Linked DNA regions of Homo sapiens. The protein of the gene in region 2 purifies or fractionates together with the protein of the main gene of each other region. This does not show direct contact. Each region holds a gene or a part of one and is shown on either strand. Other genes may lie near its edges.

Evidence for each region. Proteins that work in one complex are often made in the same cells at the same time.
Region 1: the proteins of P4HA2 (region 2) and IQSEC1 purify together in Homo sapiens (co-immunoprecipitation; 2 studies listed by BioGRID and IntAct, with this or other methods). This does not show direct contact.
Region 3: the proteins of P4HA2 (region 2) and COL5A1 purify together in Homo sapiens (co-immunoprecipitation; one large-scale study listed by IntAct). This does not show direct contact.
Region 4: the proteins of P4HA2 (region 2) and MAP7D1 purify together in Homo sapiens (affinity purification with mass spectrometry; 2 studies listed by BioGRID and IntAct, with this or other methods). This does not show direct contact.

The regions. Positions count from the first base shown.
Region 1 is NC_000003.12:12,899,487-12,902,429, forward strand, and holds part of IQSEC1 (IQ motif and SEC7 domain-containing protein 1), read right to left. Parts: intron 2,037-2,943; coding exon 1,497-2,036; 3' UTR 1-1,496. UniProt on the Homo sapiens protein: Guanine nucleotide exchange factor for ARF1 and ARF6. Guanine nucleotide exchange factor activity is enhanced by lipid binding. Accelerates GTP binding by ARFs of all three classes.
Region 2 is NC_000005.10:132,206,668-132,211,976, forward strand, and holds part of P4HA2 (prolyl 4-hydroxylase subunit alpha-2 isoform 2 precursor), read right to left. Parts: intron 3,857-5,309; coding exon 3,617-3,856; intron 2,665-3,616; coding exon 2,471-2,664; intron 1,218-2,470; coding exon 1,041-1,217; intron 1-1,040. UniProt on the Homo sapiens protein: Catalyzes the post-translational formation of 4-hydroxyproline in -Xaa-Pro-Gly- sequences in collagens and other proteins.
Region 3 is NC_000009.12:134,843,073-134,845,343, reverse strand, and holds the end of COL5A1 (collagen alpha-1(V) chain isoform 1 preproprotein), read right to left. Parts: 3' UTR 501-2,271; downstream 1-500. UniProt on the Homo sapiens protein: Type V collagen is a member of group I collagen (fibrillar forming collagen). It is a minor connective tissue component of nearly ubiquitous distribution. Type V collagen binds to DNA, heparan sulfate, thrombospondin, heparin, and insulin.
Region 4 is NC_000001.11:36,166,160-36,169,659, reverse strand, and holds part of MAP7D1 (MAP7 domain-containing protein 1), read right to left. Parts: intron 1-3,500. UniProt on the Homo sapiens protein: Microtubule-stabilizing protein involved in the control of cell motility and neurite outgrowth. Facilitate microtubule stabilization through the maintenance of acetylated stable microtubules.

The sequences.
Region 1 (2,943 bases), on a different chromosome or scaffold from region 2:
CTGGCCCTGGGGAGCGCATGGTGTCACCACAACACAGAAGCGACAAGAGCACAGCTGAGAGTCATGTGATGCCCTGGCAGCTCACTGGACCATGGGAAGGCAGCGGGGGCTCCGCCGGGCACTCGTCGGCTGGGGTCACACGGGCCACGGTGAGGACACAGGGGTTCTGCTAGCACATGGCTACATGGAATTACGGTGATCACTGCTACCACTCAGAAAACAAAACGGGAAACACACACACCGCCCTGGGTTGCTAAACGCTAAAGTCAACCTTCAGGTTCGAGAGTGGTTCCTGATGAAAACACTCTCTGAGGGCTTCGGCCTGGTGTGGGTTGGAGGCGGGATGAGGACGTTATGGTGTTGGGGAGACGAGGATGAGAGCTGGTCACTTTCATGTTGGAGATGAACACTTCTGCCGTGTATGGGTGCCCCTCTCGGAGGACTCTGAATGAGTGTGCGTCAAATCATATGCGCATAAAAGAAACATGGATCATGGAGAGTCACAGTTATCGCAGCCATTAAAGTGTCTAAGAATCCGTGTAACCAATGTCCTAAGACAACCAGCTTGTAACCAGCTGTCCTGAGTTGCTACTGTAGAGTGTACTGCAGTTTAGCTATTTGCTTACCTGAAATAACAGCATTATAATACTATTTATGATAGTATTCTGTTAATAAAATAAGGATTTATACAAAGCAATACTGGACTTTTTAAACAGTTAGATGCTATGTTACTTGGCACAGTTAGTAATGATTGTGTAAAGATTTTAGCCAGTCCTAGAGGGACTTCTTTGTATGAAAATATGAAGTATCTGAATTTGTTCCTAGCATTTAGGGTTTGGTCTATTGTCTCACACACCCAGCTAAGGTACTGTCTTCCTATTAGGTAAGTGGAGCTCCTTGTAAGGTGGGTATTGCTAATGTGGACTGAAACGCCTGCCTTTCACACACAAGTACTACCTATACAGTATATATATATATATATTTATATATTTATATATTTATATAAAGTTTACTTACGTATTTTCATCAACCATATCAGGTCTACTTATTTTTTTGCCCATTGTCAATAAAAGAGCAATAATGCAGCAAGTTTTGGGGTTTGTTTTGTCTGTTTTTGTATCTCATTTCTTCGTTTTCTAGGTTGGGTTTTCATATGCATGTACATTAGGGCACAGGGAGCTGAGAGCTGGAGTGGGGGAGGCAGTTCAACACTACTTGGCTGGCTCACCGTTTCAAGGCTGATGGTGTCTGAGGCCCACCCATCCCTCAGACTGAGGTGAGCAGAGCCCAGGGTGCCAACAAGAAATGAAATCTGGGCCTTTGTTCCACACAACACCAGCCCTGTGGGCTCCTGGGGCTCCGGTTGGGCCGTGAGGGGCAGAGGGGAGAGATGGCAACAGAAGTGCCCCGGGTTTGGTGTGCGGCTGGCGACCCCCGGGCGTGCCCTGTGTGGTGTGCAGGTGTTTCAGGGAGCCTGGGACCCCTACCCAGGCTGTCTACACAATTGTGCTGATGCCGCTGGGTTTGGCCTTGCTGCTGGTGGGGGGCGGCGGGGCAGGGGGCTGCCCATGGTGGTGCACTGTGTGCCCCACGTGGGCCGAGGGCAGCGGCGGGTGGCCGTGGGCATGGGCCCCGTAGGCTGGGTGGCCCCCATGGGGGCCGTGGTGGTACTGGTGTGCGTGCTGGATGTGCTGGGGTGGGTGGTGGTGGTGGTGATGGTGGTACGGGGGAGGGTTCTGCATGTGGCAGTACTGGGTGTGATGCCCGTGCATGGCGGCCTGCGGCAGCCCCTCTGGGGGCCCCAGGTGGTGGCCAGCCACAGAGTGCTGCAAGTGAGGCAGGACCACCGGTGGGTGGGGGGGTGGCAGGGCTGGGGCTGAGGGCAGGTGGGCCTGGGGAGGGGGCTTCCCTCTCTTGCTCCCGAATAAGGAGCCCAGGAGGGAAGATGAGTTGGGCATAGTCTGGTGTGGGCGAGATGGACACTCTCGTGTTGATGTAGCTCTCCGGCGCATGTGAGGACTGCTAATGATGGACCCCTAAAAAGGAAATTCATAGAAATCAAAATTAAAAGATCTTCAAGCACTTAGGTCAGAATGATTTTTTTTTTTCAAATGTAAAAATTCACCCACTGACTGCTAAGCTTTAGTTCAACTCACTGGCCAGAGGGTGGGGCTCAGTGAGGCTGGACTGGGCCCCGCCTCCTCTCACTACAGTGCAGGGCAGCTGGGGGTTACTGGCCTTGACCAAAGTGGGGAGTGAGGGCAGGGGAGGGGCCCATCTCTCTGACCACCACGGCAGAAGTAGGACTTCTGGTCTCATTCTGACAAGCACTTTGGCCCTGGCAGCAGCCTGAGATTTCAAATTGGAACCCCTAGGTTGGGGTGTCTGTGCGCTGTGTGTGGCGAGTGCAGAGGGGCTGATGTGCCTGGAGGAGGAGCCCTGCTCCTGCTGAAAACAGGGCCCTCAGCTCTCCTGGGACTGCTCAACTGGGCTGAGGGCATGTGCTCCGCCCATGTGGGTCCTGAGGTCTCGGGGGAGGTGGTGACAGGGACAGGTGGGGCTCAGAAACCTTGTCCTCTGGGAGAATGGGCTGCCTAGGCATTTCACTACAGCTGCCTACTACAAACCAAACAAGGAAAAAGAAGGTAACAGAAAAAGATCTGCAAGCTGAGGTAGAGATGTGAACAGTAATACAGAGATGGCCGGAGGATGAGTGAAATATCATGAAATCCACACTGAATCTCTTTCTCTCAAGACACTCCTCCTCCCACAAGCTAAGCAATTCCATGGTGTCCTGCCGCAGACACACAGCAATCAAACTCCAAGAAGAAAGCGATGAGGATGGGCGGGCGTGGAAGTCAAGGGTTCAGCAAAAACATCCAACAGCAAGTGTGGAGGGTGAGTGGGAGCCGGGTGGCCCGGGCGGGGGTGCCGGAAGCTGGG
Region 2 (5,309 bases):
AACCAACAGCCAACTGCATTCTTAGCAGTAAAATACCATAGGAATTTCCAGGAAATTCAGGAATGAGACAAGGATGCCTATTCTACGTAATTATGCTCTAGAAGTTCTGGGCAATTCAATAAGGTTATAAAAACAAAGGAACTACAAGTATCAGGAGAAAATAAAATTTTCCTTATTTCCAGGTGTTAATGCTATCCAGGCAACCAAAGAGAAATCAGCTAAAAACCAAAAAAGAAATAAGTAAATTCAACCACTAGCTGCAATCTGTATGAGTTTGCTTTTTCATAGGTAAAACAGAGACAGTGACATCATTATGAGCAGCTGTTCATAACTGTGACATAACACTTAATATATATGTTAAGCACTTAGAAGTTCCTGCCACAGTTAAGAATTCAGTAAACATTAGCTCTTACTATGAAATGTATTTGTAAAATCAATAGTTTGGCATATAATAGTAAACTAATAAAATAATGTAACCAGTTAAAAATAATAATGAAGAAATAAAGTAAATTAACAGTAACAAAGAAACTACCAAGGAATAAACTTAAGAAATGTTCAAGGCTTATATGAAGAAAACTTAAAAAGATATGGAGAGACCTGTCATGCCCTTGGATGAGAAGACCCAATATTATAAAGATATACATTCTCCTCTAAGTCATTCACCTCATTTACAGTCCTAATCAGGAGCTCCACAGGACCCAGCTTCATAGCATCCTATGGAACATTTCCAAAAAACTCACCCACGCACCAGTCTCCCAACCAGGTGAACTGACACACCAGTGTAGACCTGCCCTGTTCCCAGCGTGACCTTCTATGATAGCACTTGGCTGTCCACATTGGTTACCCTGTTCTTCTTCCACTGGACCATGAACTCACAAGGTCAGGCTGAGTCTGAAGCATCTCTGTATCCCCACGGTAGGCCCATGCTAGATATGGATAAAGGGTGGCTAGATGGGCAAACCAACCACCCATAGTGCTAGGGATGAGAAAAAGGACCTTCCCCCTTCAGTGACCCGAGAAGGACCTACAGTGACACCTACTTTAGGTTTTGCGATCTCCTTGATCCTCTCGATTTCCTCATCAGACATGACATCGTAGTACCTGACGATGTGCGGGCTGTCCCACTCGTCCTCCTCTTTGAAGGGGGCAATGAGCAGCTGTGGGGCCCTGTTGCCATGGTGGTACCTACAGAAAAGCCTCTTCTGTCTACGGGGTGTCTGGAAAGCACAGAGTAACAGGCCCTGAGCTGAGTGAGTCCTAATCCTCGGTCCCAGTCTGGCTGTCTGCAGACACTGGACTCACCTCATGGCCAGCAGCTGCTCCCTCCCACCACACCACAGAAGAAAACAAAAGTCCCAGCAGGTGGGCATGCACAGTGGCTCATGCCTGTAATCCGAGAACTCTGGGGGGCCAAAGGATAGCTTGAGACCAGGAGTTTGGGACCAGCCTAGATGACATAGACCTGTCTCTAAAAAATTAGCCAGGCATGATGGTGCATACCTGTAGTCCCAGCTACTCAGGAGACTGAGGCAGGAGGATTGCTCAAGGCTGGGAGGTCAAAGCTGCAGTGAGCTATGATTATACCACTGCACACCAGCCTGGGCGACAGGGTGAGACGAAAGAAAGAAAAGAAAAGGAAAAAGAGGAAACAGGAAAAAGAGAAGAAAAAGGAAGGAAGAAAGGAAGGGAGGGAGGGAGGGGAGGAGAGAGGAGGAGAAGGGGGAGGGGAGGGGGAGGGGAGGGGGAGGGGAGGGGGGGAGGGGAGGAGAGGGGGGAATGGGGGGAGGGGAGAGGAGAGGAGAGCCCCTTCAGCTTAACTGGCATGAAATAACACCCCACAAATCATGCAATTTTTCTTCTCTCCCAAAATCACCTCACATCCTCAAGTCCCATGGCAGAAAGTAATTCCTGACCCTTTTCGTGAAGACTTGAGTAGGTCTGAAGGGCTGGGACAGGGGAGAAACCTTTCTTGGTGGAGGAGCCAGTAGAAGCCATGCAGACAGGGGCATGGAAAAGGCTCAGAGCCTGTCACACCTGGGCCTCCTCAGGAAGCACTAGGATCCCAGGGCTCTCAAAGGCTCGATACCAAGCTCTAGTACACGCTGGTGTCTTTACCACAGAGACTTACTCTCCACTTATACCATGACTTCTTTTGGGGCCTGAGGTACGTCCACCCATTGTTTTCTTCCCAACAGTGAGTGAAGCAAAAAGTGGGACATATTGGGGTAAGGAGGCGAGCTCACTGGTAACTTAGAGGAGCAACACTCTACCTGGGGCACGAGGGGAGAGAGTCTCCTTTCCTACACCTCAGAGAATATCCACATGTCAGCCTCAGGAGATGCCATGAAAAACTGGGGGATATACTGAGAAAAGTACCTACAGAATAAAGAACACCTTCCCCAAATCTGCCTGCCCAGAGCCAGAGTCCAGGTCCACAGCTTTGGCACCCTAGCCCCCTCACACATCTCACCAGTTTGACACCCTCCCCACGACAGAGGCTCTCGTAAACATCCCTCTCAGGCAGGTAGTCCACAGGCCTCTCATAGATGCCTTCTGGGGTTGCTAGCTCAGCTTCTGTCTGATTTGTTAACGTTTTTTCTCTCTCTTCCTCCAATAACTGCTCAAAGTACCGCAGATTCCCTCCAGCTCGTTCGTGGCTTGGGTCTAGAAAATGCAAGGAATGAGAAGGAAAAGGAAACCACAAACATCTGTTAGGTCATTTAGAGAAATTATTCTGTAAGGGTTTCTCTCCCAGCAGCTCACCTGCATGCTGCATTCTACCTTCCACAGCATCTAACCAGAGTACGCTGGTCGTAACTGGAAAACCAACAGAGGCCAGGTGCGGTGGCTCATACCTGCAATCCCAGCACTTTGGGAGGCCGAGGCGGGTGGATCACGTGAGGTCACGAGTTCGAGACCAGCCTGACCAACATGGTAAAACCTCATCTCTACTAAAGAAAATACAACATGGGGCATGTGCCTCTGTAATCCCAGCCACCTGGGAGGCTGAGGCAGGAAAATCTCATCAACCCGGGAGGCGGAGGTTACAGTGAGCTGAGATCGTGCCACTGCTCTCCAGGCTGGATGAGTGAGACTCTGTCTCAAAAAAAAAAAAAAAAAAAGGTAGATGAGTTTTAAAGGCACAGTGCTTTTGGCCTTCTTCAGTCCAACAGCACAAGGCACACAAAGTATCAATGCCATATGAAGTCCTACTATTAGACCTCAGGCCTCTAATAGCACCGCTACTGTTTGTCACTGTAACAATCCTAAAGTACAACCTGACTCCTGAGCTGCTCCTGATGTAGTAAAGGTTCCACCCTGTGTAGTCCTGCATGGTGACAGATACACCATAACAGAGTCCTTATTAAAAAGGCCCACAAGTGCCACAGGCCTGAGCGTATCTATCAGCGACTGCGCAAACCTAAGGCCAGGATTGAGGTGGGTAAGGAGCTAGTAAGAAGCTGGACTGGTCCTAAAGTCAGTAAGGCATTAGTCACTGGCCAAGTGACAGGGTAAACTGACTCAGTCCCAGGAGAGGGGTCAGGCAGATGCCAGCACAGTGCAGTTCCTCTGCCACTCTCCATTCCCATCTTACCTTCCCCTAGAATCTCCTTACCAAGGGAGAGCAGGCGGCGGGTGAGCTCCAGGGCACGGTGCAGATCACCCAACTGGAAGACAGCATAGCTGAGGTAGTCCAGCACCTGTGACTTGGTTGTGGTGGCCTCCTCCCCGGCATCAAGCTGCTTTAGCACCTGCTCCATCCACAACACCGTATGATAATAGTCCCCTTCATTGTAGGCCGAGCGGCCCATCCCAAAGCAGTCATCCACACTCAGCATTGCCTGGTACTTGGTTCCTACAGCAGGGGAAGTAAATTGTCAGGCTCCAAAGAGCCTCTGGATTAGGGAAAGAGATTCCCACTTCAAGGAAAGCCTGAGCCACTGGATAGGGGGCATCACCAAGCAGAACTCCATCGGACATTTAGACTGCATATCCTAAAGGGCCACTGACACAGTGAGCACAGACAGATGGCCCAGCCCTGCCCTGGACTGGGGTTCACAGCCACCTCTTAGCCTCAGATTCCCCATCTCCCAAGTGGGAAGGGGCCTTTTTAGGGGGAGCCCCAGAAACCCACCAGGAAGCATTGTTGAGGACAGTGGGAAGGTCCTGTGGACCACAGAGAAGAAGATGTCTGGTGGGCAGTTTGCCATATGAGTCTAGAGGATGGAAAAATTAGCTGAATATAAAAAACATAAATTTAGGTGGCAACCAAGCCATGGGTGAGGAAAATAGCTTGCAGGAACTCTGAGGAAAGAATGGAGAAGATGACTAAGGCCAGAGCTCCAGGGAGCACCTACCCAGAAAGAACAGACAATGAATAACCCTGAGAATGAACTAAAGATAGGAGAAACAGAGGGAGCGGGAGTGGTGTGAGAGACACCAAGGGAGGCCAAGAGCCAAGGTTGCAGTGCCAGCTTTGGCTGTTAAGTGGCAGGGACCTTGCTGAGTATCAGTTCAGTGGGTCTTATGACCAAAGGTCATCTGCTGTAGAGGGAGTGCTGGAAAGTGACCATGAAGATAGTTTCAAGCCAATATGAAGAAGCAGCTATAGGGAGATGCAGGATTTAGGGTGAGCTCAAGATGGGAAAGACTATGTGTGTGGTTCCTCAGAGAATAATGAGAAAGCAGATACCATGGAGGGGAAGTGGGGGCTGTGACTCTCCCTGGAAAGCAAGGAAGACTCCCCACAGCCCCATTAACAGCAACCTGGGCATGGCTGACACAAAAGAACTCAGAGAAGGCTCTTTCTGCCTGGAATGAAACCACTACACAGTAGGCTAAATGCTTCAGAGACCAGGGTCTGCTAACCCCGGTGGCTCAGGAACCAATAACGAGGAATAGGAAGTTGGGGACAGTAAACACAAGATGAAGTCCCTAGGTAGGCCAGGGACTGGGGGGCTCCTGGAGCCCCTTTTCCTTCTCCACAGGTCTCCTCTGGCTCTGCAGGCCCAGGAACCTACATTGCTGGGGCAGAGTAACATAGCTGACTGAGCTGGGGCTCTGGAGCTGAACTAAACTAGGTTTGTGTTGGCCTCACTAGGGCGCCAACCAGCTGTGTGACTATAGACAAGTTACCATATCTAAGTCTCAGTCCCCTTATCTCTAAATAAAGATAATATCATCAATTTTAAAGAGCTTGTGGCAAGAATTCAATAAGATGACATATGAAGATGTCTCCTATGCTCCCCAGGATGCTAATGACCAGTAGCTATTATCAACATGTCTCCCAGATGCCAAGAATGCTAAGA
Region 3 (2,271 bases), on a different chromosome or scaffold from region 2:
AACATGGCTGGTGCTGTGCCCGAGGGAACCACACCTTCAGACCGGAAGAGGCGAATGCCACGTGGGCTCAAGGTCATCGGCTGCAACGAGCCCCGTGCCTTCCCCGACCTCTAGCCACAAGGAGCTAGGGAGTCTAATCCTGCTACACAGCTGGAAGGGCAGTGCTGGAGAGCTTCAAGAACATTCTCGCAGGGTGCTGACTGCCAGGAGTGAAGAGTGAGGACAGTACACGGTGGTGTGGACACCCAGCAGTGGCTGAAACTCACTTCTCGGGCTAGTGCCCGGTTACGTTCTAACATCCTCCCAAGGGCACAAAGCTGTCCATGCCAGCCTTGGCCACTCCTGAGGGACAAGCTCCACCTAAGGACAGCCGGGGCCATCCCTTCCTTTCTCTGGGTGGCCAGTGTGGTTATCTCCAGAGCTCCTAGCGTCCTGGGACTGTGTGCAGTCCTGTCTGGGAGGGGCCTGGCCACACTTAAGAAGAGAGTCACTCACATCTGTTTACGGTGGAAACACCCAACTCGATTTATTGAAAAACTATTACAGTTAATTATTCCTTTGTTACACAAGTTTAGAATATTTTAAGATATCCTTTCCTGGGCATTACAGTTAAAACTTATGACATGTCTAGCGGATTTTTTGAAACCGTACAATGTGTCATTTGACATTGTATTTCAAAAGGCCTGATGTCCTCGAAACTTTATCTTGGGTTTTTTGCTTACCATTTTTTTCTTTTTGCCAGCGTTTGTCCAATTATATATATTGAGAGGAAAAAATAAAATTACACCAAAAGAATTTCTGCAAATATAAGAAGTAATTTTATTGCAATATACTGTGGCTAGAGTGGTCTGGGGAGAACGGGACACATTTTGAAGTTCAGTACAAATTATAACAACTTTGAAGGGACCACAGAGGAAGAAAATGACAGGAGAAAAGGACAAATTGGATGGGATGAGAAATGAAAACAGAATCACATGACCTAGACGCAGTCCACGGGGGTCGCGGGACAGTCCTCGGCTATGGCTTTTCTTTTGAAGAGATGAAGGTGACAGTCATTGGCACATGCTGGCATCCTGGGCTCCAGAGACTCTCCAAGCCAGACTTTTCTTTGGCAAGAGCGAGACTTACTTTCCAGGGAAATTTGGAAAATCCACGCTGGCGGTGTTTTGTTCCTCCTGGGTGGCTTGTTTGTGGCTTCCTAAGCTGGAACTGCATTCTGGTGGTGGTGGGGGTCGGGGACAGCACCAGAGCCCCGCAGGCTCACCCCAAGGGCCCAGCCTGCATTTCCCATGGTAGAAGGAAAAGGCGCTGCACCCGGGCAACTTTTCACAGTGAAGAGATCGCCTTTCCTGGCTGCCCCTCGGGTCCTCCTGCCCACAGACGGCAGCCCCCCGACCTCGATGGCCAGGAAAGGGTTCCCCAAAGGGGACCTCACCCGCCCCGAGCTCTGGAGCCGCTGACGCTCGCATCCAGGACATTTGAGATGGGAATCCAAATAGGCTACTTGGAAAAGACGTGCTGCAGGCAGCCCTGGAGAGACTCATGGAGTTCATTGTACATTACTCCATCTACCGAGGCAGCGCATGGCATGACTGAACGGCTTGGAACAAACACAGAAATTAGCACCACAAACATTCAGGAACCAAATATAATCTGCTATGGTCACACCACAGACAATGCAGGAAGAGGCTTTTTATTGCTTGTGTGTGTTTTCAAATCAAGTAGGCACAACCCAGTCCTCATAACAGCCCTCGGGAGTGGACGCACCGGGGCGGGAGAGCGCAGGAGGGAGTGTGCTTGGCTATCCTGCCCAGTGGAAAGGAAAGTGACGTGCATTGATCTTAGAGTCCTTGGCAACAGACTGTGGAGGCAATAACAGGATAAAGAAAGCAGGGAGAACGAGGCATGGCCAGGGTCCCCAGTGCGCCTTCAAGGAGACCTTAAAACAGATAGATAGCACCACAAGAGAGCCACAAGAGAGAAGTGTAAAAAATAAGCACCAATTTTCATTGAGTTATCACCTACAAAAAATGTGGTTTCCCTGCCCTGGACATTCTCCCATCAGGCTCTGCGGGAAGAAAAGCGGAAAAAGGAAGCAAATAAAATTAATCCAAACCTGTGTTTTAGTCTTAAGTGCATGTAGAAAAAAGAAAATTATCAAATTTTTTCCCTATTAAAAAAAAAAAAAGTCTAGAGCGAATCAAAAACTGTCTGAAAAGGGGCACTGGTACCTGCTTTTCAATGGCAGCATAAATTCTTGCTGCCCCGGGG
Region 4 (3,500 bases), on a different chromosome or scaffold from region 2:
CTGAGGAGATCAATGGGAACACAGCTACCAACTTGCTTAGGGAGCAGGGCCGGCATCTGTGGGAAGCTTCATCTAAGGAAACATTTTTCTTTTTTTTTTTTTTTGAGACGGAGTCTCGCTCTGTCACCCCGGCTGGAGTGCAGTGGCGCAATCTGGGCTCACCGCAAGCTCCGCCTCCTGGGTTCACCCCATTCTCCTGCCTCAGCTTCCCGAGTAACTGGGACTACAGGCGCCCGCCACCACGCCTGGCTAATTTTTTGTATTTTTAGTAGAGACGGGGTTTCACGGTGTTAGCCAGGATGGTCTCAATTTCCTGACCTCATGATCCGCCCGCCTCAGCCTCCCGAAGTGCTGGGATTACAGGCGTGAGCCACTGCCCACCGCGCCCGGCCTTTTTTTTTTTTTTTCAAGACAGAGCCTTGCTCTGTTGCCCAGGCTGGAGTGCATTGGCACGATCTCGGCTCACTGCAACCTCTGCCTTCCAAGTTCAAGTGATTATCCTGCCTCAGCCTCCCAAGTAGCTGGGATTACAGGCACCTGCCACCACGCCCAGCTAATTTTTGTATTTTTAGTAGAGACGGCGTTTCACCATGTTGGCCAGGCTGGTCTCGAACTCCCGACTTCAGGTGGTCTGCCCGTCTCGACCTCCCAAAGTGCTGGGATTACAGGCATGAGCCACTGCACCCGGCCTTATATGTTATTAGTTTTAATCCTCACTGACAATAGTTATGAAGGAGTCCTCATATAGATGAGGACAGTAAAGTAAAAAAAGATGAAGCAAAAAAAAGAGGTAATTTGAGATCATTCAGCTGGTCAGTCAGGGAGCCTGGACTTGGACCCAGTAGCCATCATCAGAGCCTGTCCTTACCCATTATACCCTCCTGCCTTGTTGAAGGCAATATGAGGGAATAGGTGTTACGCAATAAATTATCTGAGGCTCACACTATTTTCCGCCTCATTCCTTCCCATCCAGCTTGCTAGGATCCAGGCAAGAGCCCCAGCTGAGGCCCTGTCTTCCCCATTACCCCTCCAACTCCACCAACTCCACCAACTCCTAGGCTACATGACAAGCCACCCATCTCTTCCCATACCAGCAGGAGACGGCTGCCTGGTCACTGCTAATCTATTTCCCAGCCAACTGCAAACTCCTTTACCAATTCCAGTAGTCAACAAAACCAGTTACTCACTCTAGTGAGTGCTTACTACTCACTAACAGTGGTGCACCCTGTGTCCTCGCAATTCTGAGAGGCAGAGATTCTTATCCCCATTATACAAGTGTGGCAACCAAGGCCCAACCTGCAAAGTGATCCACACAGAGTCATAGAACTAGTATGTGGCAGAGTTGGGCTTTTTTTTTTTTTTTCCTGAGATGGAGTCTCACTCTGTTGCCAGGCTGGAGTGCAGTGGTGCGATCTCGGCTCACTGCAACCTCTGCCTCCCAGGTTCAAGCAATTCTCCTGCCTCAGCCTCCAGAGTAGCTGGGACAACAGGCAGGCACCACCACACCCAGCTAATTTTTGTATTTTTAGTAGAGACGGGGTTTCACCATGTTGGCCAGGCTGGTCTCCATCTCTTGACCTCGTGATCCGCCCTCCTCAGCCTCCCAAAGTGCTGGGATTACAGGCGTGAGCCACCGCACCCAGCCTAGAGTTGGGATTTGAACTCAGGACTGTCTGAAGCCAAAGCCTGGGTGTGTAAGTATTAAGCTTGAAGGTTGAGGGTGAGGTCTGTTTATTGCCATTCTCCAAGCACCTGTGCGTGCTGCAGGTGTTGCAAGGAAAACTGGTAGGCGGGTGTTTGTCTACACCTAGGCAAATCACACCCACCAGGCAAGACAGTCAGTGAGTCCCCAGCAAGGTCCTGACTCGCTATGTGAAAGGAGGCTGGGAGGAGGTAGAGGAGTGAGGCTTGGAAGAACCTGCACCCAGGCATCAGATGCAGTGGAGCAGAAAGGTCACAGGCTTCAGAGTCTGACAGGCCTGACTGAGGACCTCGGCTCCCGGCGAACCTCGGGCAAGCCCTGAGCCTGTGTAACCACAGTTCCCTCATGGAGTTGTTGGCACACATGGGGAGTTGGTACAGACGGGTACATCATCGGTGGCACCTGGCAGGGGCTTGGTAAGCAGCACCTGCCCCGAAGAATATATCCACGTCTCCTCATCTCTGCCAGGAGGAAATGCTTCAGCCAGGCCTTACCCCCACTGCTCTGCAACATTGCACTTCTCAAGGACACCCGTGACCTCCATGCTGCTAAATCCAGCAGGCAGTTTTCCATCCCTCATCTTCCTTGGCCACTATGCAGCTGCATCTGCCACAGTTGATTTCTGACTGCTCCTTGAAACACTGTCTTCACCTGGCTTTGAAGACAGCACATTCTCCTAGTTTTCCTTCTACCTTGCTGACTGTCATTTCTCAGTCATCTTTGCTGATCCTGCCTGAACTTCCCAACCTCTCAGCGCTGGAGTGCCCTAGGGCTGAGTGGAGGACCTCATTTATTTTCTATCCACACGCACTCCCTTGGTGACCTCATCCAGACTCACAGATTTAAATACCATCACTGCTGACGACAACCAAATTTGTGTCTCCAGCCCAGGCCTCTCCCTTGAGGTCTAGTTTCACTCATGCAACTCCCAGCTGCTTGACACCCCTGTGTGTCTCAAAGATGCCCCCAATTTAACACATCCCAAACTGAGCTGCTGATCTTCCCCCAAAAGCCTGCTTCTCCCCATTTTCCCCATCTCAGTTAATGACAACTACATCACACCTCATGTCTAATCTCTCAGCAAATCCTTCTGCCTTTATCTTCAAAACAGATCTCAAATCTAATCATTTCTCACTGTCTCCACTTCTATCACTTGGATCAGAGCTACTATCAGCTCTGATAAAAGACTCCCTGCTCCAGTCTTTGTTCCCCCTGGGTCTTTTCTCAACACAGTAGCCAGAGTGATTCTGTTTAAAAATAAGTCAGATTGGCCGGGTGCGGTGGCTCACGCCTGTAATCCCAGCACTTTGGGAGGCCAAGGCAGGCAGATCACGAGGTCAGGAGATCGAGACCATCCTGGCCAACACGGTGAAACCCCGTCTGTACTAAAAACACAAAAAATTAGCCAGGCATGGTGGCAGGCGCCTGTAGTCCCAGGTACACAGGAGGCTGAGGCAGGAGAATTGCTTGAACCAGGGAGGTGGAGCTTGCAGTAAGCCAAGATAGCGCCACTGCACTCCAGCCTGGGTGACAGAAGGAGACTCTGTCTCAAAAAAAAAAAAAAAAAAGGTCAGATCACGTCACTCCTCTGACAAAATCCTGCAATGATTCCTCATTTGAGGGGAAGAAAAAGCCAAAGTCATCATGATAGCCTATTAAGGACTCCCCAGGATCCTGACCTCTTCGACCTTGTCTCCTCTTCTCCCCCTGCTCAGTTTTTCAGCCACTGTCCCTTAAGGGTGTTGGGGAGATTTCTGCCTCAGGGCTTTGTACTGAGGAAACAATATTTCCTCAGTGG